Linked DNA regions of Homo sapiens. The protein of the gene in region 1 purifies or fractionates together with the protein of each later gene. This does not show direct contact. Each region holds a gene or a part of one and is shown in the gene's direction. Other genes may lie near its edges. The genes, in order: PLS3 and KLHL23.

Evidence for each region.
Region 2: the proteins of PLS3 (region 1) and KLHL23 purify together in Homo sapiens (affinity purification with mass spectrometry; 2 studies listed by BioGRID and IntAct, with this or other methods). This does not show direct contact.

What each region holds. Positions count from the first base shown.
Region 1 is NC_000023.11:115,553,951-115,569,210, forward strand, and holds the start of PLS3 (plastin-3), read left to right. Parts: upstream 1-7,223; 5' UTR 7,224-7,310; intron 7,311-8,453; exon of another isoform or gene 8,454-8,580; intron 8,581-8,675; exon of another isoform or gene 8,676-8,781; intron 8,782-15,260. UniProt on the Homo sapiens protein: Actin-bundling protein.
Region 2 is NC_000002.12:169,724,742-169,740,437, forward strand, and holds the start of KLHL23 (kelch-like protein 23), read left to right. Parts: upstream 1-9,090; 5' UTR 9,091-9,346; intron 9,347-10,271; 5' UTR 10,272-10,273; coding exon 10,274-11,486; intron 11,487-15,696. Other genes in the region: PHOSPHO2-KLHL23 (kelch-like protein 23), read left to right, coding at 10,274-11,486.

The sequences.
Region 1 (15,260 bases):
TGCATACTTAGTAAACACAGACCCAAATATTTAACTATAAGCATTCTTGGTAGAATAATCAGTTATAGCATTTAAATATCTGATCATATTCTCTCTCTTTCTCTCTGTCTCTCTCTCTCACACACACACACACACACACATAATGCAGGTAGACACTCATAAATTTACCAAAATTTGGCCTCACATATTCAGAAATCAGTTAAACGCAATAGACTGGACATGACTGTTTCTTTAGAAGTCTGGCTAGTGCTGTGGAGAATTATGGATAACCCTTATAAATTTTAAAATGTGCGCTACAATTTATTCTGCAGGGTTGTTTGTATATGTTTAAAAGACTTTTTTCATAGGAAGCCTCCAATATTTCAAATTACATTCTAATAAAGGTTGAGGTTGAATATTTCACCAAAAAGAATGCTTTATAGCCCAGACACACAAAATGATAACATCAAGTTGTACGTGCTAGTGCACTCACCTACCTTAAATTCTGTGTAAGTTACAGGCATGTTATTAATAATACTTCCTTAAAAGCAAAATGTGATATGTGCCAATTAATTATGTAAATCTCATTGAGGGAAGGATTATTATGGCTCTAACTAAAGCAACTGTCAAAATTACTGTAACCTGGCCAGGCACGGTGGCTCATGCCTGTAATCCCAGCACTTTGGGAGATGGGTGGATCACTTGATATCAGGAGTTTGAGACCAGCCTGGCCAACATGGTGAAACCCAGTCTCTACTAAAATACAAAAATTAGCCGGGTGTGGTGGCGCACCTGTAATCCCATCTACTCAGGAGGCCCGAGAGTCGCTTGCACCCAGGAGTCGGAAGGTTGCAGTGAGCCAAGACTGCATCATTGCACTCCAGTCTGGGTAACAGAGCGAGACTCCGTCTTAAAAAAAATTAAATTAAAAAATTAAAAAAAAAAACCAGACAAACAAAATTACTGTAACTAAAAGCAAGACCTTCTGTAACTTGGCAGTTTAATTAATGTAAGACAAGAAAGATTCACAAGTCTTTTCTTTTATTTTCCTTCCCTCCTTCCCTCTCTCCCTCCCTCTCTCCTTCTCTTTCTCTCTCTCTCTTTCTCTCTCTTTTTTTTTTATTATTATGCTTTAAGTTCTAGTGTACATGCACACAACGTGCAGGTTTGTTACATATCTATACATGTGCCATGTTGGTGTGCTGCTCCCATTAACTCTACATTTACGTTAGGTATATCTCCTAATGCTATCCCTCCCTCCTCCCCCAACCCCAGGACAGGCCCCGGTGTGTGATGTTCCCCTCTCTCTTTTCTTTTCTTTCTTTCCTTTCTTCCTTTTGCTTCCCTCTTTCCCTCCCTCCCTCCCTCCCTCCCTCCCTCCCTTTCTTTCTTCCTTCCTTCCTCCTTTCCTTCCTTCCTTCTTTTCTTTCCTTCTTTCAACAGGGTCTTACTCTGCTTTCCGGGCTGGAGTTCAGTGGTGATATCATAGCTCACTGCAGCCTCAACCTCCCAGCCTCAAGTGATCCTCCAACTTCAGCCTCCCAAGTAGCTGGAACTACAGGCATGTACCACGACCATGTCCAGCTAATTTTTGTATTTTTTGTAGAGACTGGGTTTTGCGATGTTGCCCAGGCTGGTCTCAAATTCCTGGGCTCAAGTGATCTACCCACCTCGGCTTCCGAAAGTGCTGGGATTACAGGCATGAGCCCAGCCCACAAGTCTTTTTAATCACTAAAGTAAGTGTTAAAAAAATATATTTTCTCTTTTAAAAAGATTACGTTAGTGAGATCCCAAGCAATCTTCCTTCCCATTGATGTTATCACTGCACCTTTGTGGTAGGCAAATCCTCAGTTTTTCTTTTGCAGATAAGGAAGTAGAAGCCTGGAAAGAAAGCCCAAACTCAGAAACTTACCTAAAGCGCTCCCATTTTGCTTTCTTATGTTAAATTAAGTTTAGCCTGGTTGGGTGTGGTGGCTCAGGCCTCTAATCCCAGTAGTTTGGGAGGCCCAGGCAGGTGGATCACTTGAGCCCAGGCGTTCAAGTCCAGCCTGGACAACATGGCAAAACCGCGTCTCTACCACAAAAAAAAATTAGTTGGGTGTGGTGGCACGAGCCTGTAGTCCCAGCTGCTTGGGAGACTTGCGGTGTGAGAATCACCTGAGCCTGGGAAATTGAGGCTTCAGTGAGCCATGATCGTGCCACTGCACTCCAACCTGGGTGACAGAGCGAGACCCTGCCAAAAAAAAAAAACAGTATTTCCATACATAGTGAACTGTAACCTAAACAGATGTGTAAACACACTGTAACCCTCACTTGTAAAAATTACTGAGTTTTGGCCAATAAAAGCAGCCAATTGTTCAAATTGAGTTCAAATAAAGCAAATGCCAAGGTGTAACCAATCCAGCTATTGCTGTACCCCACTTCCATTTTCTGTATGTCACTTTTCTTTTTCTGTCCATAAATTCTCTATGAACATGTGGCAGCACCAGAGTCTCTCTGCACCTAGTCTGGTTTGGGGTGGCTGCCCCATCGTTCATTGCTCAATTAAACTATGTTAAATTTAATTTGTCTGAAGTTTTTCTTTTATCACTTCCTAGGAATGAAAATGGTTTTCATTTCTACTTGCCTATATCAAGTCTTACCCATCTTTGTCAAGCCTAGCTCAAGTTCCATTGCACAAAGGATGCCTTCTACAACTGCTTTAGCCCTATTATTCTCATTCTTTTCAGCCTACCTACGGTGCTTCTTATATATTCTATCTTGAATTGTTTTCTCATTATTACAGTTATGTGGACTTTGATCTTGAATTAATATTAGACTATTAATTCGTTGTGTTTTGAGACCATACTTTTTCTATGTTGCTTATAATAGTTATCTGATTGATTAATTAGATATTTAACACCCAGAAAGTCGGGAGAGGGGAGGGTGACACTTTAATTTTGAGCATTTCCAGTGATGATAGTGATCTTTGTTAAATCTACATATTATAAAGTCCATACTGATTAAATATGTCCTAATCCTATTAAAGAGACTTCAATTAATTTTTTGTTTTTTATTTTTTAATTTTCTTATTCTCAGATACTGATAATTTTTTTTTTAACAAGTGAAAATCTGAAATAAGCTTGGACATGTCAGAGTAATTTCTTTATGTGAATGTGCGTGTAAGATAGTTGGCCTGCATTAGCAGGCATTCACATTCATAATAATCTTTAGGTTTGAAAAATATTTGACAATTGCCTATTCACTATTAATATTCATGTCCTATACATGTGTACATTTTGAGTTGGAAACATAAAAACACTCCACTAATAAACAGTGGTAATAACTGTTCAAATCTGTATCCTATGGATCAAAAAAAAATTAATAATTGTCCAGGTCTTCCAAGATTTCCTCTATGCCAAATATTTTAAGTATGAGAGAAACCTTTAAAATCATACTTAATTTTAATAAAAATGTCATCTCACAGCACACTGAATAAAAAGAGGGATTAGGATCAATCCAAGAACCTAAAATATCACAACATGGAATAGAATTATCCATGAATTAAAAAGATGATTTAAAAAAGGATAATTCCTTGAAAATAATCTGATAAAATAAAATACAATTAATTAAAACAGATTAGTACACAATTTTACATTTAGAGACTGAGAAAACAATTAGGTGTGTTAGAAAAATGATTTAGTATTGAACTGATCAAGATTCTTTAAGTTATTCCTGGCTTATATAAAGTTTATGCAGCAAAATCATTTTTTAATAGACTACAGAAAGGAGGTTTTAAAAAAAATGATAAAAATTATCTCAGACGGGGTGAGGAAAAAGAAGAAAAAATAAAATAAAATAAAATAAAATAAAATAAAAAATGGATAAAAAGTTCAAGCCAGTGGTCAGGCACGGTGGCTCACCTCTGTAATCCCAGCACTTTGGGAGGCCAAGGCAGGTGGATCACCTGAGGTCAGGAGTTCGAGAGGAGCCTGGCCAACATGGTGAAACCCCATCTCTACTGAAAAAACAAAAATCGGCCGGGTGTGGTGGCAGGTGCCTATAATACCAGCTACTTGGGAGGCTGAGGCAGGAGAATCGCTTGAACCCGGGAGGCAGAGGTTGCAATGAGCTGAGACTGTGCCGTTGCACTACAGCTGAGGTGACAACAGTGAAACTCTGTCTCAAGGAAAAAAAAAAAAGTTCAAACCAGCAATGACATGTTAAGAATAAAGAATTAAAAATGGATAGAAGAGGAAACTGACAACTTACTCTAGGAAAATTTCAGGGAAAATTTTAGACTATGTACACATAATACATTGTGAGCTAGACTGGGGAGAGTGTTGGGCAGAACAATAGGAAAAAGAGCAAGAAAAAGGGGGATGTGCGTATCAAAAGGAGGAAAGAAAAGTAGTTTGGACAGACAAAAAACCTAAGAGAGATATTGGCGCCTTCTTATGATATCAGCGGAGGACAGGAAGAATAAATGGTTTTCAAAATTTTGTGATATTGACTTTAAGTGATTTATTACAAAGGCATTAGGATCGAAAATTGGAAATGGAAGGAAAGGTAAAAACTCTTAGGTTACTGATTCACAAGGTCTGTGAGAATCCTATATATATTAATAGCTTTTTGTTGCTGTTGTTTAACAAGAATAGACATAAAATAACCATTGGTTCAGCAAACATTTACTGAACTCCTATGTGTCAGGCACTATGCAAGTCACTGTCAAAATAAATTAAAGCCTATAAGCAGGTGGAGGGAACCCTGACAAACATCTGTGCAGGCTTTTTGATACAGATAAGAAAACAATCAACTTTGGGTTACTTCGTGAATGATCCTCTATGAGGTAAATTGATGGCATGAAAAATTATAAAGAAATGCTGTTTAAGAGCTTTGAGCCTGAGGATCCTTTCTTCCAGCAAAATGCTAAATTTGAAAAGATCCTTTAGATTCTGGGCAACACAAAGGTAGCTTAGTTACATCAAACTGGCTGGGTATCTTAATAGTATTCATTAAAATGGAGTTCTACCTGGATTATATAGTGGAGCTTGTTAAACAGGAATCTCAGCTAGCATCCAAATAGGTGCTTCTGTGTTTAGGGTGTGTTTTATCTGTTGGAAAGTTACTGAGGCAATGAGAACTAATGCCATCAGCTAGGTACACTGCAGCTTTGAAACTATGGACTATTGCATTTCAATTAAAATGACATTTCTTGACTGAATTCTGACATCCTCAGTGATAGTGGTGAATGAAGACTTTTATCAAAGTATAGATTCTATTAAGCTTTTAAAAAATTTTATTAATTTTTTTTGTAGAGATGAGGTCTTGCTATGTTGTCCAGGCTGGTCTTGAACTCCTGGCCTCATGCAATCCTCCCACTGCACAGCCTCCCAAAGTGCTGGATTACAGGCGTGAGCTACCCTACTCGGACCAATGTAAGCTTTTTTGAATTAAAAACAGGAACTGTAAATAGCATATACGTAGGATTCTTAATATTTTTACTTTAAATTCTAGAATTTGAAAAATAAACTAAAATTGAATACAACGTAATTGAGACAAATATATCTGCACTGGAAAATTTAGCTTACAGAGTCCCTTCATGCTATTGCTCAGTCTGTAATTTTAAGTTTAAGAGCAGGTGGAAGCTCTTCAGCGGTGACCGACAGACACCATAAAAGGTAGAAAACTGAAAAAGCCTATTTCCTGTATCTAAAAATTTTTTGTAAAGAATTCCAGAAGTCACACCAAACCTTTGGCCAATTACTGAATGCTAGAAATCTCATTTGGGAGCTTACTGTAAATGTGTGTGGCAATGCACTGGCTCCATGTTCAATCCAACGCCAACATGTTGAAATCAGTATTTTTGTGCTGGCCCAAACCTGAACCAGTAGAAAATCTCCCATAACAGAAATTCAATGTTTGTGAAAGCATGATTGCCCTCCCATTTCTTTTTCACCTTCCTGTGCCTTTCATAAGTTCTTCCAGTTGGTTAATCATTAATTAATATTTAACAAGGCTTTTTCCTCGTGCCAAGTCCTCTGCTAGTCTAGCCTTTAGGCAATATATGAACTCCCCAAGTTCTTCCCTTTTAAGAAGCCTTGGCACTCACTACGGATTAATTTCTCTAAGGAAATTCATAATGGCAGATGAAATAGGGGTTCCTTTTCAAGAACATTCCATTTTAAAGCCTCTCAGCATTTTTTCCTGGTACATGTAAAATGCGACTTAATTGAACTAATTTTAAATGTTGACAGAACTTTCCAAGCACACATTTCCTCAACAAAATGGTTACGACTGGAACAGGAAAGGGCTTAGACTTTTTCTTCTACAGCTATCCCACAAGTCAGTCTCTTGACCTGACCCTGCAAAATCCCTCAAACTCTGGCTCTCTGAGTTGATTTTGGATATACGATGAACCATAGGTTTGGAATGCAGATAACCTCCACGTGTATTAATGAAAGAGGTCAGCTATGACGTGGAAGCCATCTCCTGGGCAGAGAAGGAGAAGAAATGGCAGTCTGGGGAGTAGTAACATGTCTCCAAATTTTCTCTGGTGAAAGGAGACTGATGAGAATTGATACCCATTTCCGGTCAAAAGAGTGGAACCAATGTACTTCCAACCACCTCCTCTCAACCCCTCTCCGCATGGACAAACATACCAGACAGGTGATGTGGGCTAACAATTTACTTGGCATGAGGCCAAAGGCTTGAGGGCCCTGCCCTGCCCATATTCTTCTCCCTTGACTTCTTAAGGAAAGGAATGATTGCTGATGTTTCCCTCTGCACCCTTTGGCACCTGGACTGATTGTTGCAGATGTAATTAGGAATGTTCCCCAACATGCCGTTATTCTTCTCACGATTCTGGGAGAAACTGTACCCCTCCCCCATAGACTTATATAGGTGGCATTCAAATTCTTGTTCCCAACTTTTTCATCTTTTTATTAATCCCACAAGATTGTGTGAATGTGTACTCCGAGCCAGGCACGTTGGACTTCTAACTTCCTCTTAGCCCAAGTAGGAAGGGGAGACTCAGGCGCTGGGGACCATTCTCCTCTCCCTGCAGCAGAGTTGCAGTCCCTATCCCTCCTGGGTGCCCATCCCCGTGCCTATTTTCCTGGATCCCCACCCAGTTGATGTGACAGGCTCGTGGCCCAATCCCCTTCCTGGTTCCCAGGCCGACTGCTAGCACCACCCGAGCCAATGGCGGCGGCCGAGGGGCGGAGGGGGCTGGCAGGAGGGGAGGGAGCGCTGGCTTTAGAGCCACAGCTGCAAAGATTCCGAGGTGCAGAAGTTGTCTGAGTGGGTTGGTCGGCGGCAGTCGGGCCAGACCCAGGACTCTGCGACTTTACGTAAGTGCTTTGTAGGCGCCGGCGGGCACTAGGGGAGCGGGTTTCCTGGGCGTGGGCAGGAGTGGGTCCCGGGGAGAGCATCTCGGTTAAGCTCAGCAGGAACGTGCGGCGCACCGTGGGGCGGGGGTTGGGGGAGAGGGAGGTCGGAGAAATTTCAGTTGGAGCCCTCGGGCGCCCGGGCGATCGGTCGCAACCGAAATGGGTGTGAGTGACGGGGAGTTTCCCTACTAGCATCCGCCGCAGACACGTTTTCTGCACTTCACTGTATTAAGTGGTGTTTTCTTACTAGTTGCTCTTAACTTGTTGCCAGTCTTGGGCTGGAGTCCTAGACGCCAGCCCTTGCCCTGATTCCCCTCCGCGGCTGCGGCCCCGAAGTGGAAAGGGAGCGCACAACTTCCCTCTGTCGTCCTTCTCCAGCTACTGCCATCCCCTCTTCCCTCCCGCCCGGACTCAGGAAATCCCGGAGCCAGCAGCCTGCTACTCCTCCAGCCCCCACACGCCCGCCTCGGGTGACCTGGCTGGCTTAAGCCGACCCTGGGGCTCTGGAGAGGGGGGGCCGTGGCCGAGGGAAGGCACGAGGTTTGGGTTGCCTGCCTTCTGCCTGCTTCCCTCCCTTGTCCTTAGCGAGGGCGTCGCGAACGCACCTAGTCTCCCTATGAGTAAGCACTTTTTTTCCTTTCAGTAGGAGAACATCTCTGGGCTAGTAGGACAGTACCTTTCCGTTCTCCCCTGGCCCCACACCCCCTGTCCTTTTTTCAGCTCCTTTGACTTTGCGGCCCCGGGCGCGCGGTCGGGGCGGCGGCAGTCCCGGACCTCTCCCGACTCTTGGAGAGGGAGAGGCAAAGGGGCGACGGGAGGGAGGTAATAGTCTACCCCCCCGCCCTTTCCCCGCACAGCTGCACTTGCCTGTGTTTACTTTTCTCCACCCGCAGTACTTAAGCGCTGTAATGAGAGGCCCGGGGACGCCGACCACCCCCGCCCTGGCTTCTCGCCAGTCCCAAAGTTGCTGCCGCCGTCGCTGCTCCAGTGTGCTGGCGGTTCCGACCGCCGGGCTCCGGGACGTAAGATGATCCCAGCCCGGGAGGTGGAGTGGGGGTTAATGGCATCTGACTCTAGCCTTATGCGATGCTCCTTGCCTCTCACCTGAGCTGCACGATATCCCCAGTGGTGCAGAAGGTTGAACTTTTGCAGAAGGTTGAGCTTGGAGCTAAGTGGGTTGGAGAGCCTCGCCATTTAGCGTCAGACAGACGGGATGCTGGGGGCGCCCGGCCTGTTAAGAGGGATTGGGAGGAGGGAAGGGAGCCTGGCTAACAGTAGGTAGAAAATGTAGGGAAAAGTAAAAACCATTGAGGGGCAAGCACTTACTCCACTTTGCTGGATGTCACAATGGACTGGGGAGCCTAAACTTGATCCTCGAGATGCAGTTCATGGTGAATTCCAACTAAGTGGCTGGAGCCCCACACATACCAGTTGGAATCACGTGCCCCAAGTCTCTGATGGTCACATGACGTCTTTTTACTTTAAAGCTGGAATGTAATGGTTGAGGCCCATATTCCAAAAACCACCTCTACGTTTGAAAAAAAAAAAGGTGGGGAGGAGTGTGAACTAGCTTCTAATCAAGGAAGTCTACTAGGATTTTGGATGAGGGGACCAGAAAGGGAATTTGGTGCTCAGCTTTTATCCAAAACAAAAACAGGAGCTGTTTTTAAAATAAGGGATTGAAATATATGTGAGCTGGGACATGTATCTCCTCTCTTCTTCAATCTCATGGTTTTTCTAAATTTAAAAAACATCTTACTAATTATTTTCTAGGGAAGTCATCCTATTACTCATGCCTCATTTTGTCCCTGAATACTAGATTTGAAGCTAAATCCCACAAGATAGTGTTAAAAAGTAAGGCTCTGTTCATCTTCCTTGGTCTGGCCTATATTCTAATTGAACTGTTCCCTATTTTAGGCAACTACTTAAAGGTAGTAAATAACCTCTTGACTAAAATTAACCACCAGTTATTTGTGGTTTTCAATTAACTGGATTAGAAATCATGCACAAAAACAGTGGATAGTAAATTTGATACATCGAGTTGGTTGGGTTTTTGCCTGTCAGTGGTTTGGTAGAATAATGAGAGGACACTGAAACAACTTTCCCATATTGACCTATACCCGCCCAAGTGGCCCAAGTTAAGGTTGCTTCTGGGAAAACGTGGCAATTTGGCTATTCAGATTATATATTACAGAGTATAGAAGAGAGGCAGAGGAGCCTCTGAGGTCAGGAGTTTAAAAGCTTTGCTTATCTGAAAAAAAAAGAAAAAACGGACCTGGTTGATGCATATTCAGTCTTGAAAACAACTAGGGCAGAAGATATTTAAGAGATTCTGACTTTGTATTCTTTTGCCAAAAACCCTTTGTCTCCTGCAGCAGCCTCTGAATGACCGGAGCACTCCAGTTTCTTGCTGTTCATCCGTTTCTGAGCCTGAAAACTAGAACAACCTTAAAGCACATTGTTCTGACCCCAAGGCTAGCCTTGTGGCACAGATGAGCTGGAAATGGATTTAAGGTGCACCTGAGTTACTAGAGTTAACTACACTGGTAGATAGACCCCTCTAGTGGAAGTGAGGTGATAATATAATTTTAGATCGAAATAATAAATGTTTAACCTCAAAAAAAGGAAGTTATTACCACTCAACTAGGTTACAGTGGTAGGGGGATAAGTTCTTTTTTAAGTATTGTGAAATCATGTCTAAACAGAATCATCGCTAGGCTCTAGTCCACAGCTTTTCATTGTCTTGGGATGCCTACTCATTGAACACCACCCCCAATATTGCTGACTTTTTTTGGTGGTATGATCTAATGAGCCCAAATTTTTATTGAAATTAGGGGGCTGGGAGTCAAATTCTTGATTTTTACTGTTAGATCTAGCAGATAGCAACCCCTTTACCTGAGGTGGGGAGCTATTAATAAATAAATAACACTTTGCCTTGACTTAATACAGACGATCAACATTGAAGTCCAAAGTCTCTAGTCTGATGTAACCATTTAGATTCAATTGATAAAAATGACTAGGCTTATGGCATTTTGGGTAGAAGGATTAATTATAACTAGTGAGTAATAATTTGGGTGAGATTAAGCCTCTTCCACAAGTGGTTACACGCACATTAGACTTTGACTGTGACTGTTTATACTGGCAGAATGTCAGTATCTAGGGCACTATCAGAAACCCAATGAGATTTTTCTCCCAGGAGAACAGAATTCTGTTACTGAAAATAAAAGGGCAGCTTGGCCATGGTGCTTGAGCACCAAAGTGGTTCTTTTTGGTGACACTGAGAGGGTACAAGAAGAAAGTCCATTTGCCATTATCCCATATTCTGTTTTAGGCATTATTTCTACTTGGATTTTCATGAAATGTACTGACAGTGTTCTTAGCACATATGATAAATTCATGAGTTTGCTGTTGTGTTTGATCTAGCATAATCTATGTGGAATGTATAAGCTGAACTGTTTCTTTTTTGATGTTTGGTACAGATTATGAAAGTAGCTGGTATAAAATAAAATTTGAAAATGAATATCTCTCAATACATGACAACAATGGGGTATCTGTTTTTAGAATCATGTTGTCTTTGGTCATATGGCAATTTTTCTTTTGGTGAAGAGTGATCCAGAAGGCAAAATTTTTGATCTGTGAAAATAATACAACTCATTTAGAAGAAGTCAGCTGGGTCATGTTTTGAGTCTGTATTATTTTAGACAGTGATATACCATATAATGTATATTCAGTGTGTTGGAGGTTTCAAAGCTTTTTGGATACATTACAATGTTGGAAGATTTTTATATACCAGTGGTCATGACTAGCTGATTTTAGTTATGAGAGCGCTTTGGTTAAAGTTATGGAAACAGTCTAATCGTGAAATGTCAGTCTTAGAAGATCTGATCATACTTGGGCCAATTTATTTTAGTTACGGAGGTGAGACAATTTCAGAAGATTCACGATAAATTTAATAATACCAAATTTTGCCTTAGTCTTGACACTTGGAAGATAAATATTAGTGAGTATAAACTGTTTTAGGGATGAAGAAGTATTGTTAGTATACAAAAATGAAAATACTAATTATTTTAGCATGGGTCTTTTAGTCCTTTGCAGTCTGGACAGATAGATTATCTTAAGTAAATCATTGAACTTGCCCTCAGAGGAATTAGATTCTAGATAGTGCTCTGCCATTGACTCATAATTTGACCTTCGGAAAGTCATTTAAAATTATTATATTAATAACTAATTGAGTACATACATGTGCCAGACACCATTCATGCTTTTGTTTATAAAAAGAGAGGATTGCTCAAGCTTTTTGGTTTGCTGGGTTTTATTTTTTCAAATATTCATAATCTGGCTTATTTCACTTATCAGTTGACTTTTCAAACTTTGATGCAATTGCATTGATCCAAGCTAAATACTTTGTTGGCAAATTGATGACTATTCAGGAAAGTGATCACCAGTGGGTTATTCCATGACTAATGTTAGTTCTTTAAAATAAAGAGGTGCCATTTATTTAATTCCTTGACAGGGATTTTTGGTGCATTAAGCCTACTGATTTTATAATATGAGAAACCTTACATTTTCTTAAAAGTTTAGAAACGTATTTGATAATAAGGAGGTAGTGTTGTTTATTGGAAAAGCATTGAGCATAGAATTTAGGGTCTTTTAGTCCTTTGCAGTCTGGACAGATAGATGATCTTAAGTAACTCATTGAAATTTTCTGTGGTCATATCTGGGTTTCACTTTATTTTTAAGCCATGTGATTCCAATCTACATATTTCACAGGCATGGTAAAAGGATAAGTGAGAAACGTGAAGCCTTGGCTTTTAAGCAGACAGGTGCTATATAAATTCAAAGTACTGCAGCAGTGTATCATAGAAACACTAAAGCTTTAACAAGAGTTTACAGAAATGGCAGGGTTCTCATCACGTAAGTCTTGCCACATTTTTCTTTGTCTGTAAAAGTTCTGCACCCATCCAATTTTTACAAGCAAAGGAAAAATAAAGCCAGACATATTATAATGAAAAATAAGAGACTAGGTTGATAACAATAGAATAAAAACCTACATGTGATACTTTCTTCTTCTTCTTTTGTTTTGTTCTGTTTTGTTTTGTTTTAAAGACGGAGTCTTGCTTTGTCGCCCAGGCTGGAGTGGTGCAGCGGCCGTGATCTCGGCTCACTGCAAGCTCCTCCTCCCGGGTTCAGGCCATTCTCCTGCCTCAGCCTCCCGAGTAGCTGGGACTACAGGCGCCCGCCACTGTGCCCAGCTAGTTTTTTTGTATTTTTAGTAGAGACGGGGTTTCACCGTGGTCTCGATCTCCTGACCTCGTGATCCGCCCGCCTCGGCCTCCCAAAGTGCTGGGATTACAGGCGTGAGCCACCGCGCCCGGCCCGTTTTGTTTTGTTTTGTTTTGAGATGGAGTCTCGCTCTGTCGCCCAGGCTGGAATGCAATGGCGTGATCTCAGCCCACTGCAACCTCTGCCTCCGGGTTCAAGTGATTCTCGTGCCTCAGCCTCCTGAGTAGCTGGGATTACAGGCGCGTACCACCACGCCTGGCTAATTTTTGTATTTTTAGTAGAAATGGGGTTTCACCATGTTGGTCAGGCTGGTCTAGAATTCCTGACCTTGTGATCCGCCCGCCTTGGCCTCCCAGAGTGCTGGGATTACAGGCATGAGCCACCGCGCCCAGCCCATGTGATACTTTCTTCTATTTCTTACCTCAAATATTGTGCAAGGTAGCCCGTTAAAGCCATTAATTGGGTGGTGTTTTTCCCCTTTTTAACTAACTACTGAGTAGAATTTTGGTCTTCAGTGGTAATTGTTACAGAGTCCATTGGCTTACCATACCTCATTTTTAGTTTTGTGATTGCCCATAATGGGAGGTTTCGTGTAAAAAACCTCATAAAAAATCAAGTTTTTCCTCCTCATAATTGCAGTCTAAAGGAGGACAACACGCAGGTCTGGGAAACTGCATAGTGGAAGAGATAATCTATACATTTAAGTAGCATGCCATGAATAACACAAAAAATGGCCTGGCACGGTGGCTCACATCTGTCATCCCAACACTTTGGGAGGCCGAGGTGGGTGGATCACTTCAGGCCAGGAGACCAGCCTAGCCAACATGGTGAAACCCCGTCTCTACTAAAATACAAAAACTTAGCCAAGCACGGTGGCACGGGCTTGTAGTCCCAGCTACCCAAGAGGCTGAGGTGGGAGGATTGCTTGAGCCTGGGAGGCGGAGGTTACAGTGAGCCGAGATTGCGCCATTGCACTCCAAGCCTGGGCTACCGAGTGAGACCCCATCTCAAAAGAAAAACAGAAAAACAAACAAACAAACAAAAAAAAACAGAAAATGTGGGAAGTTAAGTTGAAAAATAAACACCTTCAAAGCTATTAACTTGGATTTTCTTTTCTTTTCTTCTTCTTTTTTTTTTTTTTTTTTTTGAGTCAGGTTCTCACTCTGTCGCCCATTCATACTCTGTCCAGTTCATTGAAAATACAAGTCTGATTCCCTTGAGTTGTGATATTCATACACACACGAGTATATATACACTTATGTGTGCATATGTATATTATATAAAGTTTTACGTGATATATAATATAAGTTTTTACTTTCTGTAAAATAAAATTTGTTAGGGCCGTATAATAGTTTTGAATATTCATATTATTGTGTTCCACATTATAAGCTCTAATTACATCGTGTTGCACTCAGATTGACATTCTGCTGTTGACACTGAAAATAACGCTTTCATTCATAGATGAATGTAATTTTCAAGCTTTTTTTCTATATTTCTTAACTTGCTTGAATGTTCCCATTTTTGCCATTTCTTGTTGTTCATTTTAACATTTTGGGGCTTGTGTTTCAGATCAGGAAGAATCACCATTATAGGGTGCAAAGAGTTTGCTCAGAGGTGAAAATGATACGAAATTGTCCCTAGAGCACATCCTATTGCTATACTATTCAACATGTATGAATTAATCTACTGGGAAAGTGTCTTGTGTAGTGTGTACTTTAAAGATGTTTTCAATCACTTTGCTTTGGATTAGAAAAATTCAAGGTAACTATAATTTTAAATGCTCATATTTTTATGTTTATTTTATATGTAGGAAGAGAAATTTTTAAAAATTGGAATAACACTATATCCCATTCTTTTCATTTATTACATTATAAACATGTTTCCAAGTGATCAAATATTTTTAAAAATGTTTAAAATCACTGCAGTATATTTTATATAATGGCTGTTTCATAATTTATTTCACTAATTCCAAGTTGTTGAACATTTGTTTCCATATCTTACAGATAATGCTTCAGTAAGCATTCTTGATCGAACATCATTTTGCACTCTATCATTTTTTAGAAGTCACCAAGAATGTTTTAAAGATGAATTCCTTTGATAGTCCCTGAAATTTAAACATTGGCTTAAACAAAAAGATAGCCTTGATTTCAGTGGCATTTAAAAAAAGAAGGCTGGGCATGGTGGCTCAGGCCTGTAATCCCAATACTTTGGAAGGCCAAGGCAGGCAGATCACTTGAGGTCAGGAGTTCAAGACCAGCCTGGCCAACATGGCAAAACTCCGTCTCTACTAAAAATACAAAAAAACTAGCTGAGCATGGTGGCGCACGCCTGTAATCCCAGCTACTTGGGAGGCTAAGGCAGGAGAATCGCTTGAACCCAGGAGGTGAAGGTTGCAGTGAGCCAAGATTGCACCACTGCACTCCAGCCCGGGCAACAGAGCACGACTCCGTTTCAAAAAAAAAAAAAAAAAAAGAAGAAGAAAAAAGAAAAGGCCATTCTTTATATAGTGTATTGTATCATATGTGACTCTAAACTGGAACTTGTTTAGGTAAAGTATATGTCTTGGAAGTATTTTGGTTTTCTCTGATCTAGTTAGCAGGTGCAGAGCAGGATGAGGTAGGATTCTGT
Region 2 (15,696 bases), on another chromosome or scaffold:
CCTCACGCCTCCCAAGTAGCTGGGACTACAGGTGCGTGCCACTAAGCCCGGCTAATTTTTTGTATTTTTAGTAGAAATGGGGTTTGACCATGTTAGCCAGGATGGTCTCGCTCTCCTGACCTCATGATCCACCCGCCTCAGCCTCCCAAAATGCTGGGATTTCAGGCATGAGCCACCATGCCCAGCCACAATATATATTTCTTGAGCATCTGTTACATGTTTTGAACTATATATAGCAATGAGGAAAACATGAAAATCACTGCTTTCACGGAGCTAACATTCTAGTGGGAGAAACGCAATAAGCAAAATACATAATATAAATGGTAATAAGTACTATGGATTAAAATAAAGCAGGGAAGGGGAATAGAGAATAGCAAATTGTAGTAGCAAAATCTTTTTTTTTTTTTTTTTTTTTTTTGAGACAGAGCCTTGCTCTGTTGCCCAGGCTGAAGTGCAGTAGTGCAGTCTTGGCTCACTGCAACCTCCACCTCCCGGGTTCAAGTGATTCTCCTGCCTCAGCCTCCTGAGTAGCTGGGACTACAGGCATGCACCACAACGCCCAGCTAATTTTTGTATTGTTAGTAGAGATGGGGTTTCACCATGTTGGCCAGGCTGGTCTTGAATTTCTGACCTCAGGTGATCCGGCCGACTCCACTTCCCAAAGCACTGGGATTACAGGCATGAGCCACCATGCCCGGCTGCAAAATCATTTTGAACACATTGGTAAAAGAAGGAATTGCTGGGAAGGTGGCATTTGAGCAAAAACCTGATGGAACCCCACAAGCACAGACAACTAAAGCAAAAATGGATAAGTGGGATCACATCAAGTTAAAAAGCTTCTGCACACCAAAGGAAACAATCAACAAAGTGAAGAGACACTCCACAGAATGGGAGAGAATATTTGCAAACTATCCATCTGACAAGAGATCAATAACCAGAATATATAAGTTGCTCAAACAACTCTATAGGAAAAAATCTAATAGTCCGATTTAAAAATGAGCAAAAGATCTGAATAGACATCTCTCAAAATGAGACATACAAATGGCAAACAGGCATATGAAAAGGTGCTCAACATCATTGATCATCAGAGAAATGCAAATCAAAACTACAATTAGGCAGGGCGGGGTGGTTCTCACCTATAATCCCAACAATTTGGGAGGCTGAGGTGGGTGGATCACTTGAGGCCAGGAGTTCAAGACCAGCCTGGCCAACATGGCGAAACCTTGTCTCTACTAAAAATACAAAAATTAGCCAGGTATGGTGGTGCATGCCTTTAGTTTCAGCTACCTGGGAGGCTGAGGTGGGAGAATCAGGGAAAATCGCCCGAGGCTATAGTCGAGGCTGAAGTTAGCTGTAATCATGCCATTGCTCTCCAGCTTGGGTGAAAGAGAAAGACCCTTTCTTTAAAAACTCTTAAAAATAGAACTACCGTGTGATCCAGCAATCCTGCTGCTGGGTACTGCTGCTGGGTATATACCCAAAAGAAAGAAATCAGTACATTAAAGAGACATCTGCACTCTCATGTTTGTTGCACCATTGTTCACAATAGCCAAGATTTGGAAGTAACCTAAGTGTCTATCTATAGATGAATGGATAAAGAAAACATGGTACATATACACAATGAAGTACTATTCAGCTGTAAAAAAGAACGAGATCCTGTCATTCGCAGCAACATGGATAGAACTGGAATGTCATTATATTAAGTGAAATAAGCCAGGCACAGAAAGACAAACATCACATGTTCTCACTTATTTGTGGGAGCTAAAAATTAAAACAATTGAGATAGAAAGTAGAAGGAAGTTTACCAGGGGCTGGGAAGGGTAGTGGGGGACTGTGGGGATGTTTAATTGGTACAAAAACTAGTTTAAAAGAATAAATAGGACCTAGTATTTGCTAGCACAACAGGGTGACTATAGCCAATAATAATTATACATTTTCAAATAACTAAAAGAGTATAATTGGATTGTTTGTAACACAAAGGATAGATGCTTGAGGTGATGGATACCCCATTTACCATGATGTGATTATTACACATTGCATGTCTGCATCAAAGTATCTCACGTACCCTATAAATATATACACGTACTATGAACCCACAAAAATTTTAAAAAGGCAGGGTGCAGTGGCTCATGCCTGTAATCCCAGCACTCTCGGAGGCCGAAGTGGGAGGATCACTGGAGGTCACATGTTCGAGACCAGCCTGACCAACATGGCAAAACCCTATCTCTACTAAAATACAACAATTAGCTGGGTGTGGTGGCATGTACCTGTAATCCCAGCTACTCGGGAGGCCTAGGCAGGAGAATCACTTGAACCTGGGAGGCAGAGGTTGCAGTGAGCTGATATCACACCATTGTACTCCAGCCTGGGTGACAGAGCAAGACTCTGTCTCAAAAAAAAAAAAAAGAAAATTAAAAAAAAAAATCCTAATGGAGGTGAGAGAGCCAGTCCTGTAGTGGTAGCTGGGAAAAGAGCAGTCCAGGCGAAAGGAATAGCTAGTAGCAAAGCCCGGAGAAAGCCCTGAGGCACCGCCTCCTGGTGAGAGGCAAAGCAGAGCTGGATGTGGGGATCCAGGAGCCTGTTATAAGTACTCTGGCTTTTACTGAATGAGCCAGGAAGTCTTTGGCGAGCTTTAATCTCTGACTTATAGAATAATATCAGTCTTTCTTGGGTTAGTTGAGCCAATGCTCTTACTTGTATTCTTTCTCCATCGCTTATAATGGAAAAAGCCCTAGTTTATTATCCTTCTGTCTTGTATTAATTTTATCTGGGATTGAGCTCTGTGGCACAGAAACATATTCTCAAATAAACTGCTATCTTTTAAATAGTAATAATACTCCCTCAAACAGTAATAGGCTAATTCCTGTTTTGGGACCAGATCAGTGGTCTTTCAAATCTAATAAGTTTGAAAAACTATGTACTCACTTCCATATTTTTAAATCGATATTGGAAACTTTTCATCACAAGTTTAAATATTTGCCAAGGTTGTAATTTCTAACATGTTATAAATAATGACTGTTAAATAATACTTTTAAATCTATTTAGTAAAAACTAAATATAGCCGTTCAAAACCACTGTCATTCATTTAAAAATACATAAACAAGTTGTTCTTTAAAAGTGGGAAATTTTTGGCTTCCTAGTACTTACCATGGTCTGTGTTCTTACGCTGACTGTATAGAAACAGGAGGCAGAGTAAACCGACCCCACATATACCTCAGCCCAGGCCCTGTGCTGCGTCTGTATTGTGAATCAGGAGACATGGAGTTCAGAAAAAAAAACTATTGGAAGTTTTTATTTTCTCATTTTTAAAATTTAGTTCTCAGTCTTCTTTCTTCTTGAGTTCGTACTTCCATTCTACTTCTCTTAGAGAAGGTTGTCCCACTGAAAATACAGGCAGTCCTCACTTTGCACAATAATACAGGACCTTCAAAATAACTGTACAAGTTGAAAATGTATAATGTGATCTAAATAATCAATGGGAAAAATTATGATTGTCCTATGACCTTTACATTTTTTTGTCACAACATTATGAACTCTCTTACTATTCGTTAAAATGTATAGGGAAATAAAGAACATGGTAAGACTGATATTTACTTAGTATACTGCAATTTAAAACATTAGAAACATTGATAAAGTGTTATGTTTCTTTGTAAACACTTAACAATAGTAGTTCGCTTAGTTTCTTGCCTTCTTGTCATAAAACTTATGATTTGGCGTACTCATCTTTCTACGCCTTGATGGACTGTCATAGTTTTACGTTTGGATCAACTTCCAATGTGTTATCCTTTGCATTTTCGATGTGGTGAAATATCTCCAAGAGTTCCTTTAATGTGAAGTTTTTTGCCAGGATCACTTCCTTTGAGACATAAGGTGACTCACTTATGTCATGAGTTCACCTGCACTAAGTTCCCTGGCTGCATATCTGAATTCTCTCCAATGGTGGTAGTGTAAACATTCCCATGGTCAGCTATTTCCTCTATAACCTCATTGTGTTCATTTCACTTTTTTTTTGTTGATTTTTTTAGACGGAGTTTTGCTCTTGTCACCCAGGCCGAAGTGCAATGGCACAATCTTGGCTCACTGCAACCTCCGCCTCCCAGGTTCAAGTGATTCTCCTGCCTCAGTCTCTGAGTAGCTGGGATTACAGGCACCCACCACTACGCCTGGCTAGTTTTTGTATTTTTAGTAGACACAGGGTTTCACCATGTTGGCCAGGCTGGTCTCGAACTCCTGACCTCAGGTGATCCGCCTACCTTGGCCTCCCAAAGTGCTGGAATTACAGGCGTAAGCCACCATGCCCAGCCATTTCACATTTTATTTGCGGTATTGTCACTTTTTATTTCCATGCCATACTTTCATCCTTGTTGGTCAATACCCTTTCTCAATCACCCATTTTTGTAAAATGTCACATGGGTTTTTTACTAGCAGACAAGGAGACAATGCAACTGCAAGCCTTACTGTCTGTATGTGAACTGACAGATGCACAGAGATCAATCACTGACAGACTTTGAAAGAAGATACATGATTGGTCACTGATCAGGATGCGCATTTGTTAATGTAGTAATTCATGGACCTGAGGAGCTAGCAGCAAATTTGTATTTTATGCAGTTACTCAGAGTTAATTTACTTCAGTAACTGAAATTTGAAACCTTGTTCTCAGGGGACAGGTGTTATTTAACTAAACCATGGTAACTAAAATTCATACATATTGGAACCATTCAAAGAAAGCATTTTTGGCCAGGCCAAAAAAAAGAAAGACTTTTCTGTATGGTTTTATACTGAATATCTTTTATTAATCTCTTAACCTTCTCTGTGACAAAAATGTGTATAAATTACAATTTGTATGTCCTTGATGGTTTTATATCTTTGGTTATTTTACAAATCCTGGTCTAATTAATATTATAATTATTATTATAATTAATTAAACATAAATATGTTTAAATCAAAAGTAAAAAATTATTAAAAATTATTTCAATCTGATGAATAGGGCTACTTTCATTTAGAGTATGAAGTCAAGTAGTGCTTACTGCTGGAATGAGACAGTATTTAGGTTCAATAATGTTCCTGCTTAACATTTCTATAGACATAATCGCTGAGAAAACATGTTCACAGAGACAAATAGGTAAGAATGAGATAAATTTTATCATAGTGGCCGGGCGCGATGGCTCATGCCTGTAATCCCAGCACTTCGGGAGGCTGAGACAGGTGGATCACCTGAGGTCAGGAGTTCAAGACCAGCCTAGCCAACATGGCAAAACCCCATCTCTACTAAAAATACAAAAATGAACTGGGCGTGGTAGCATGCACCTATAGTCCAGCTAATCAGGAGGCTGAGGGAGGAGAATCTCTTGAACCTGGGAGGCAGCAGTTGCAGTGAGCCAAGATTACACCATTGCACTCCAGCCTGGGTGACAGAGTAAGACTCCGTCTCAAAAAAAAAAAAACAAACAAAAAACCTTTTTTATAGTAATGCCATTCATTTTGTCATTCCCTCCAAATTATTTGCCAAAAATCCTCTTTCACTTTTGCTGGAAACCAGGAATTGGAAACCTGTGACTTGCAAAAGCATTTTTACCTAGTTATTAGAATGTTCACTTTCTTATTTTACAGGAAACATACCAAAAAAGGTTTTACCAAGACACATCGGCTGCAGGGCAGCCACAGATACCTGCGTTGGTTGTGTACTATACAACTCCTGAGAGCAGTGTTTACACTGTACTCTACTTAAGTTGCATGAGCTGGAATTGTGCAGTGCACAATTTGCAAAGCTGTATGTGGTAGCCTTATACATTTTACCTACTATTGTTTTTTATTTTGAGACGGAGTCTCACTCTGTCGCCCAGGCTGGAGTGCTATGGCGCAATCTTGGCTCACTGTAACCTCCGCCTCCCAGGTTCAAGAGATTCTCCTGCCTCAGCCTCCTGAGTGGCTGGGATTATAGGCGTATACCACCACACCTGGCTAATTTTTGTATTTTTAGTAGAGATGGGGTTTCACCATGTTGGTCAGGATGGTCTTAAACTCCTGACCTCATGATCTGCCTGCCTCGGTCTCCCAAAGTGCTGGGATTACAGGCGTGAGCCAATGGGCCTGGCCTTTTTTTTTTTTTTTTAACTTGGCAGCAACTTGTTTAATCCAGTATGTAAATGAAGTATACAAAATGTTCTATCTATGCCCATCATCTACACACATTGTTAATGATATCACAGCATATCAAACATTTAATGGCATGGCTGTACTTAGTGGAAAGATGTACTAATAAGGTAAAAATTATAAATAAAATCATTATTTTTAGAACTCGGAGTCCTTTGAAAGCTGAAGTGTGATGTCAATAAGTCATCTAACTCCATGCCAAGCTTAGTATCTGCCAAATCATTTATGTCTCATTTCCATGGCAGCACTTTATTTCTTTAAGACTTGGAACCACAGATGGCACATCTGTTTTCTTGAACGGTATCATTAATTTATTTGATTTATGAATGCTAATTATATGTTTCTGAATGCATCAAATCTATCAGCATTTGCAATGGTCTCTTTGATAAGCACATGGTAAAGAGGAACTATGCCAGGCAATACCCTTCAGGACCTGCTCTTCTCTTAGCAAAGTGAAGCAGTATAATAGTCTAATATGTAATATACACTGATATACACTTTTAAGTAGTAATTCACAACCAGGGAACATCACGAAATGAAAGCAAGAGTTTTAGTTGGTTCATGCAGCCATCTGAAATAACTGCATAAATGAGAATATAGTGAATTCTATTATTCATGAATCATTTATTATTACATGTAGTTATGATTCCAGAAGCCCTTACTCCAAGTTAGATGGAGCCTATATTTTTTTATACATCAAACTTGGCAAACAGTAATTATAGCTGCAAAAACAGCCATCTCTACACTTCAGTGACAAAAATGGAGAGAAGTCTCCTTCAATCAGTCACAATTGTGTCCTTGAATGGCAACAGTGACAACAGCATCACTATCAGTTATGAAGGGCAAGCTATAATTACTATTAACTATGAAGTTCATAATTTCTGAAGAAATGTTAAGAAGATGCTAATTTCCAAATTAAGGTTGTGATGCAGAATTAAGTGTAAATATTCTTTCATTATAGTAGCTAACATTTATATATCAAGTCCTAAGTGCTTCATTATTAATTTGTCTTTCCAATAACCTTAGGTTAGGTTGAGAAAGTATCCATGTTGTCTGTGTTTTACAGATCTGAAGACGAAGGATCAGAGAAGTTTAGTAATTTGTGAGAGGCTATATGTTGGATAAGTGGCAGAGATGAGCCTTAAGCCCGAAACTAAATCTCATATGCTTTCCTTTTCTAACTATACTGTTTACCAGATGTTGGGATGTTAAACTTTCATCCTTCTTCCTTTTGGGTCCAACACATTCTCTTATTTGTCCATAAGAATCACCTGCTGCCCTTGATTAGAATGCAGATCCCTAGGTCTCCACCCCGCAGACGTCTGTGCGTGGGGTGTGGTAGTTGTGGGGGCTGCATAACCAGCATCTTACATAATTCAATTAAGATGATCTGACTTGTGGAATTAAACTAAAACCCACCCACAGGAGAACCAACAGATGCTATTTATTCAGAGTTTGCTGTAGAAGGGAGTCCCACTCACCATCACTTTGTCAGAGGCTCAAAGGTGGGGCAGACGAGTGGGAAAGCTTTATAGAAGTGAAGAAAAGCCCCCGGTATGCTCTGATTGGAAGTTGTTGGCATGGGAAAGCTGCAGGTGGGCTACTAGAAGCGGGGGTATTTTATGTGATGGGTTTGCGGAACATATTTGGCTTTCTCTGGTTGGTGCAGAGGTGGAACTAGGGGTAAAAATAGGGAAGTTGCACTTTGGAAGTCCCAGGCAGGAAGATCGCTTGAGTCCAGGAGTTTGAGACCAGCCTGGGCAACATAGTGAGACCCTGTCATGAAAAAATATTTAAAATTTTTCAAAAATTGCACATCTGTAGTCGTAGGTACTTGGGAGGTTGAGGCAGAGGATCTCTTGAGACCAGGAGATCGAGGCTGCAGTGAGCTAAGATCGTGCGACTACATTCCAGGCTGGGCAACATAGCAAGACCCTGTCTCAAAAAAGAAAAAAAATAGGGAAATTGCCAGTCGTTGACTACTTCCTGACTGTTCTGGTTCAGCTGCTACCAAGGTTGTGGTCTGGCTTCCTGGGCTTCTTATGTGGTTCAGAGTTCTGTTGTCACATACTATCTGGCCATTCATGTATATTGCGTTTCTGAGACCATACTCTGGGAAACACATGGTCCTCTGGTGGTGGTGAAGGTCCCTGTGAGCTAGGGACCATCTGTCAACACTCTTATCACTACTAGTGTCTATCCCTATCAGGCACTAGAAGCACTTAATAAAATCTTGCGAATGAATGAATGAATGATATACAAAAATATTTGATACTGGCTTTAGTTGGAACAAGAAAATGAACTTTGTGTACCACATAGACATCTGTGACTAGAGTGGCCGTCACCAGAAAGGCTGCTCCTTCCAGCTGCTATGCTCTAAATACAATAACCTGAATCTTAGCACGACTGGACTTCGCCTGGACTTCGCCTTGGCCCCGGCTGCCCAAAGTTTCTCTCAAAGCTTCAGCTTAACCCCTGATGTGCTCACCAGCACCAAGGCGCCCTCCTGAGTGCTTTGCTGGGGGTGGGATGGCGTTTGTGGGAAAGGCCGGCTACTTCTGGCATTTCAACGGCGCCTCCAATCCCTGACCTTTAGTTGTGCCCCATTCTCTCCACTCTTTCCCCCTTCTCTGTCCTCACGATTGAGTCTGGGCTGGCGAAGCCTACTGAGGGAGGGGAGTGTACACACATGCACACGCGCGCGCGCGCACACACACACACACACACACACACTCATATATGGTGTTATTAATAATTCAGGACTCAGAGTTTATCTAAGAGAAGACGCTCGACCGGGTGTGAGAGAGCGCGCGGGACAGAGAGCGAGCCAAGGAAGGGGAAGGCGGCGGCGCGCGCTGTCTCCTGGGGAAGCAGTCCCACCTGCTGTGGGGGGCGCCGCTGGGGAGGGGCCGAGCCGTGCTCACGCCTGCACGCCCCGCCCCGCTCGCCGCACGGCCCGGCGACGGGGGAGTTCCCGCGAGTGGCCTCGCGCCCAGACCGTGCGGGGGGCTGTTCGGGTGGAGGCGGGGGAGCCGCCGGGACACCAAAATAGGAGCTGCTTGTGGGGTGGAGCGGCACTAGCTGGCGGCTTCCGAGCGCCTCTTCCAAAGATGGTCAGAGGGGCCGGAGGCGTCCCCGCTCCCGCTCGCTACTAGCCCGCGGGCCAGCGCCGCGTCCCGAGCCCCGGCGGGAGGTAGGTGCGGTGTGGACCCGCAGCCCGAGGCCGGCCTGCTGGGAGCGAGCGGGGCCGGGCGCGGGGAGCGGGGCCGGGCGCGGGCAGCGGGGCCGGGCGCGGGCAGCGAGGCCGCGCGGGAGAGGAGCGCAGACAATGGCCGCGCGGGCGCCGGGCCGGGCCGAACGCGTTGCGCTGGGGCTGCCTGCGGCGTCCTTCCCACACCTGCGCGGAGCGCCGGGCAGAGGGACGCGGGCACCGGGCCCGCGGGCGGCACGCGGCGCCCTCGAGTCCAGCCCCGCTCCTGGCCCCGGGGCGGGGCGGTCTCCGGGCGGGAACGTGGGCCGGGGCCCAGGCGCGGGGCGCGCGGAAACCCCTGCGGCGGGCGCGGGGGAGGGGGCGAGGGCTGCAAGGGCTGCGCCGAGCTGCCTTCCTTTCTCTCCTTCCTTAAGCGAAAGGGCTCGGGATTTCCCTTTTCCGAGACCTCTTCTTGTCCATTTATATTTCCATCATCCCTTTCTTGGCATTTCGATGTGATTTGAAAGGGAGACGAGCTTGGGGAAAAGGTTGAATTGGGGCCGAGCCGAGACAGCTGAGGTCCGGCCTCGAGTGGGGTGACCCTCGGACACTTGCCTTGCCTAGTGTGGGATCTCATCTCCGAACGCCAGGCCAGGGTAGATTGCGGTGAATGGAATAGCAAATCAGTACTCTCAAAAGGACTACTGAAAAATCCAGGAGCCTCATTTCAAGCTCCGAGCTACCCTGAATTTAAATTGACCACCATATAAATGATCAAACAGTCCATCCACATTTTGCATTTATTATTTAGATGCTGAACTTAGTCCAGTTTTGGAGTATATCCGATGATAGTCAAGTTATTTAGCGTTGATTATTTGAGAGAATGTGCAACATTGAAAACACATTTGTTATTTCATATTTATTGCAGCCATGGCTCTAAAAGGACAAGAAGATTATATTTATCTTTTCAAGGATTCAACACATCCAGTGGATTTTCTGGATGCATTCAGAACATTTTACTTGGATGGATTATTTACTGATATTACTCTTCAGTGTCCTTCAGGCATAATTTTCCATTGTCACCGAGCCGTTTTAGCTGCTTGCAGCAATTATTTTAAGGCAATGTTCACAGCTGACATGAAAGAAAAATTTAAAAATAAAATAAAACTCTCTGGCATCCACCATGATATTCTGGAAGGCCTTGTAAATTATGCATACACTTCCCAAATTGAAATAACTAAAAGAAATGTTCAAAGCCTGCTTGAGGCAGCGGATCTGCTACAGTTCCTTTCAGTAAAGAAGGCTTGTGAGCGGTTTTTGGTAAGGCACTTGGATATTGATAATTGTATTGGAATGCACTCCTTTGCAGAATTTCATGTGTGTCCAGAACTAGAGAAGGAATCTCGAAGAATTCTATGTTCAAAGTTTAAGGAAGTGTGGCAACAAGAAGAATTTCTGGAAATCAGCCTTGAAAAGTTTCTCTTTATCTTGTCCAGAAAGAATCTCAGTGTTTGGAAAGAAGAAGCTATCATAGAGCCAGTTATTAAGTGGACTGCTCATGATGTAGAAAATCGAATTGAATGCCTCTATAATCTACTGAGCTATATCAACATTGATATAGATCCAGTGTACTTAAAAACAGCCTTAGGCCTTCAAAGAAGCTGCCTGCTCACCGAAAATAAGATCCGCTCCCTAATATACAATGCCTTGAATCCCATGCATAAAGAGATTTCCCAGAGGTCCACAGCCACAATGTATATAATTGGAGGCTATTACTGGCATCCTTTATCAGAGGTTCACATATGGGATCCTTTGACAAATGTTTGGATTCAGGGAGCAGAAATACCAGATTATACCAGGGAGAGCTATGGTGTTACATGTTTAGGACCCAACATTTATGTAACTGGGGGCTACAGGACGGATAACATAGAAGCTCTTGACACAGTGTGGATCTATAACAGTGAAAGTGATGAATGGACAGAAGGTTTGCCAATGCTCAATGCCAGGTATTACCACTGTGCAGTCACCTTGGGTGGCTGTGTCTATGCTTTAGGTGGTTACAGAAAAGGGGCTCCAGCAGAAGAGGCTGAGTTCTATGATCCTTTAAAAGAGAAATGGATTCCTATTGCAAACATGATTAAAGGTAAGTGGAGATTATGTTTATTTTGTATTTTTTAGATGTCTGGAGCTAGGCCAGCAGTCTCACTTCTCTTGAATTTATCACTTTGGGATGCTATCTAGGAACTATAGTTAATTATACAAATAATGCTACACAGAATGTTCCAGATAAAAACAGTATAGCATAGTTCCCAACTTGTCTGAGAGTTATGAGAATTTATATTCAAGTCAAGGGCTAGATGAAGAGACAAATCTGGACAGTTTTTCATTTTTTCATGTTCTTAAAATTGAACCCTTTAAAATTCTGCTATTCAACTTTTTCCTCTCAAAATACGCTGATCAGCTCTCAAGAGGTCCTTCATTAAAACCTTGGAAGGTTTGGTCCCTACAGGATGTAACAAAGTACATTCTTCCAGGAACTAGAGACAACGTCTGCTTTTGCAATTCAGTCCTCTCTGAGAGGGGCAGACACCATACTCTCCCTCATGTGGCCCACAGAACCCGGCACACCCCTGGGTCTCGGTATCTGTCTGATAAACACTATTTTCTGCTGTGTTTGGCGATTTGTTTGCCTTGCTCTCCTTCTCTCCCACTGGAAAAAAAGTTAAACGGGAATCTTATTTCATTGTATTTATTCATTGGTGCTGAGGAGTTGTACAAAAACAACTGGTAGGTCGTTACCAAATTTGTATCATTTTGTCCCAAATGTTTCTTCCCAGGCTTTTCTGTTTCTTTTTTAATGCTAGTGAGAGTGTGGGAATTTGACCTGGTCTGGAAATCTGACCTGGTATGATCCTTGGATGACAGGCAGGAAGCTGAGAGGCAGAACAGTCTTGGGATCAGGCACGCTGCCTCTGAAGCTAAACTGCCTGCATCCAGATCCCTGCTTTCCTCTTACTTGCTGATGAGCTCTGGCAAATTGTTTAATCACCCTGTGCCCCCGTTTTGTCATCTGTATAATGGGGATGACAATATTACCTAGTCTCGGATCATTGAGAGGATTAAATTAATCTATGCTTGTGAAGTGCCTAGAACAGTGTCTGACACAGAGTAAGCATGCTATAAATGTTACGCATGATTGTCCTGAATGTCGGTATTGAAGGACATGTCAGCTCTTATAGAGCAGAAATTGATTTCATGTGAAGTTGTGACCACTGTCACACCAGGGTGGGAGAAGGTAGCAGAAAGCCCGGTGCTGTTGCTCCCCTGGTTTTTGTCTTTGCCTGAGTCTCACCACTACTTGCCGATTCCAGGAGGGCTCTGAATGTCCTGACCCCTCTTCTGCAAAAGAAATAAGAAAAGTCCATATATTTAAGGAGCTATTGTAAACTAGCATACATTTCTGATTCTGTTTTTTAAGGATGATATAACAGTTTCAATGGTTTTGTGGTTCAGAGTATATTTCTTTTTCTTTTTCTTTTTTTTTTTTTGAGATGGAGTCTCACTCTGTCTCCCAGGCTGGAATGCAGTGGCGTGATCTTGGCTCACTGCAACCTCTGCCTCCCGGGTTCAAGCAGTTCTCCTGCCTCAGCCTCCTGAGTAGCTGGGATTACAGGCATGTGCCACCACACCTAGGTAATTTTTGTATTTTTAGTAGAGACGGGGTTTCACCATGTTGGCCAGGCTGGTCTTGAACTCCTGACCTCAAGTGATCCCCCCACCTTGGCCTCCCAAAGTGCTGGGATTACAAGGGTGGGTTCAGAGTATATTTCTTTGAGAATGAAAGCTTATTACTTTACTGAAATTTTAAAAATTTATATTTAGAACAGTGCTTGTTGAAAAAAGATATGCTGCGATGGTGTATCTACTGTGAAACAAAAGCCATATGCATGCTTGCGTTAACCTTGAGTGGAGTAGGAGACCCTCATACCTCAAAGTCCTCCCTCACCTGCTAACTGGGTCTGAAATTCCAGTTTTATACTTTGAACTCAAAGCTTTGATTCTTGTTTATATCTAGTCATCCCAGGGAGAGGTAACACTGCCAGTTATGTGCAGTTTTGACTACTGCTTGTTTTGGTGGGTGGACTCATACAGAACTTTTTTTAAACAATTTTTAAAATTTTATTTTTAATTTTTAAAACTAGAAATGGCGGGGGGTCTCACTATGTTGCCCAGGCTGGTCTTGAACCCCTGGCCTCAAATGATTCTCCTACCTTGGCCTCCCAAAGTGCGGGGATTATAGGTGTGAACCACCACACCCAGCCATACTGAACTTTTAGATTCCCATTTTTTGGTAGAAAGGATAACATTTTTTTCAATTCGTTTTATTTTGTAGCCTTGAAGTGAAATAGCAGCTTTCTCTGGTAATAAACTTAATTTGGGTACAGTCAAATTTAAAATTTATTACCTTTTTTTGGTCCTGGACCCAAATTAAGTTCACTAATGTACAGAGAATAAATAAATACTTGGCTGTTTAGGAACTCCTGAATCTTTATTTTTTTCCATCATAACTGCTCTACTTATAAATCCACTTTTATTTTGGAATAGAAAGGAACAAGAAGATTGAACTGTATCATGCAAAATGGTGCTAGGTAAAAGTTAGTGGAAAGACAAAACCAACGTTTTCAACTAAAATGATCCTCATCATCTTTCTTCCTTTCTTCATCTTCCCTCCAAACCTATTTCCTCCCCCTCCTCCCCCTCCCCTTCCTCACCCTCCCCTCTCTTCCCCCTTCCCCTCCCTCTCCTCCCTATCTCCCTTTCATGTTTCGCCTATCTTCCTCTTTCTTCCTCCTCCTTCCCTCTCCTCCCCCTCCTCCCTCTCCTCCCCCTTCCCCTCCCCCTCCCCCTCCTCCCCTTCCCCTCCCCCATCTCCTCTCCCTCCTTCTGCCTTCTTCTTCCTCCTCCTCCTTCCCCTCCCTCTCCTTCCCCTCCTCGACTTCCCCCACCCCTCCTTGTTTTGGCATCAGTGATTCCAGTTTTTCCAGCTCAGGACCTCAAAATCGGTTTGGTTTGCCTCTGCGTCAGTCAGTCATCAAGACCTGTGTGTTTTACCTGTCTCTTTCCTCTATGCTCTTCCCTCCATACCCAAAGCCCCTTCAAAATCAGGCCCTCGAGACCGCCCACCCTGGCCAGTAACTAGATCTTTCTGGTACCTGTTCTTCCTTTGTTAGTTGCTCTATTCCTCTGTTTAAAAACCTTTAAAATCTGGCTGAATTAAATCCAGATTCTTTGTTGGGCATCAGTAAGTATCCTTTGCTACATGGCTTCAACTTACCATGCCAGCCTTAAAGTCCCATGCAACAACCCTCAATGTGCCACCTGCCCTGGTCAAACTGGGCTACTTAACATTGTCCAGTAAGCCTTTGCACTGGCTTTTCCCTCTGTCTAGAATGGCCTCCTCTCATCTATACTTGCCAACTTCCTACCATCACCCAGGTCAAATTCCACCACCACCTGCTGTGATTTCCCTCGTCAAATGCAGTGTTTTCTTGCCCTGACCATGCCCAGCAGTTCATCTGTCCCTTTTTTCATGGTGTTTCTTCCATTTTATATCTAGTGTTCTAATTACAGCCATGTGCCACTTAACAATGGGGATATGTTCTGAGAAATGTGTGATTAGGCAATTTTGTCATGTGAACGTTATACTTAAACAACAGGCTATACCATACTAATTCTACAGCCTAATACACACCTAGGCTGTGTGGTATAGCCTGTTACTCCTAGGCTTCAGACCTGTACAGCATGTTACTATACTGAATATTCTAAGCAGTATAACACAATGGTAAGTCTTTGTGTATCTAAACATAGAAACAGTACAGTAAAAATACAGCATAAAAGATAAAAATGGTAGACCTATTTGGGGCACTTACCATGAATGGAGCTTGCAGGACTGGAAGTTGTTCTGGTTGAGTCGGTGAGTAAGTGGGGAGGGATTGTGAAGGCCTAGGACATTACTGTACACTACTGTAGACTTTTTACTTTTTTTGAGACAGGGTCTTGCTCTGACACGTACGCTGGACTGCGGTGATGTAAACATAGCTCACTGCAGCCTTGACCTCCTGAGATCAAGCAATCCTCCCACCTCAGCCTCCCGAGTAGCTGGGACTACAGGCACATGCTATCACACGTGGCTACTTTTTTATTTTTTGTAGAGATGTGGTCTCACTTTGTAGTCCAAGCTGGTCTCAAACTCCTCCTGGGCTCAAGTGATCCCCTGCCTCAGCCTCCTAAACTTCTGGAATTACAGGCATTACTGTAGACTTTATATAGCTTATAAAAATACTTTCTTTTTA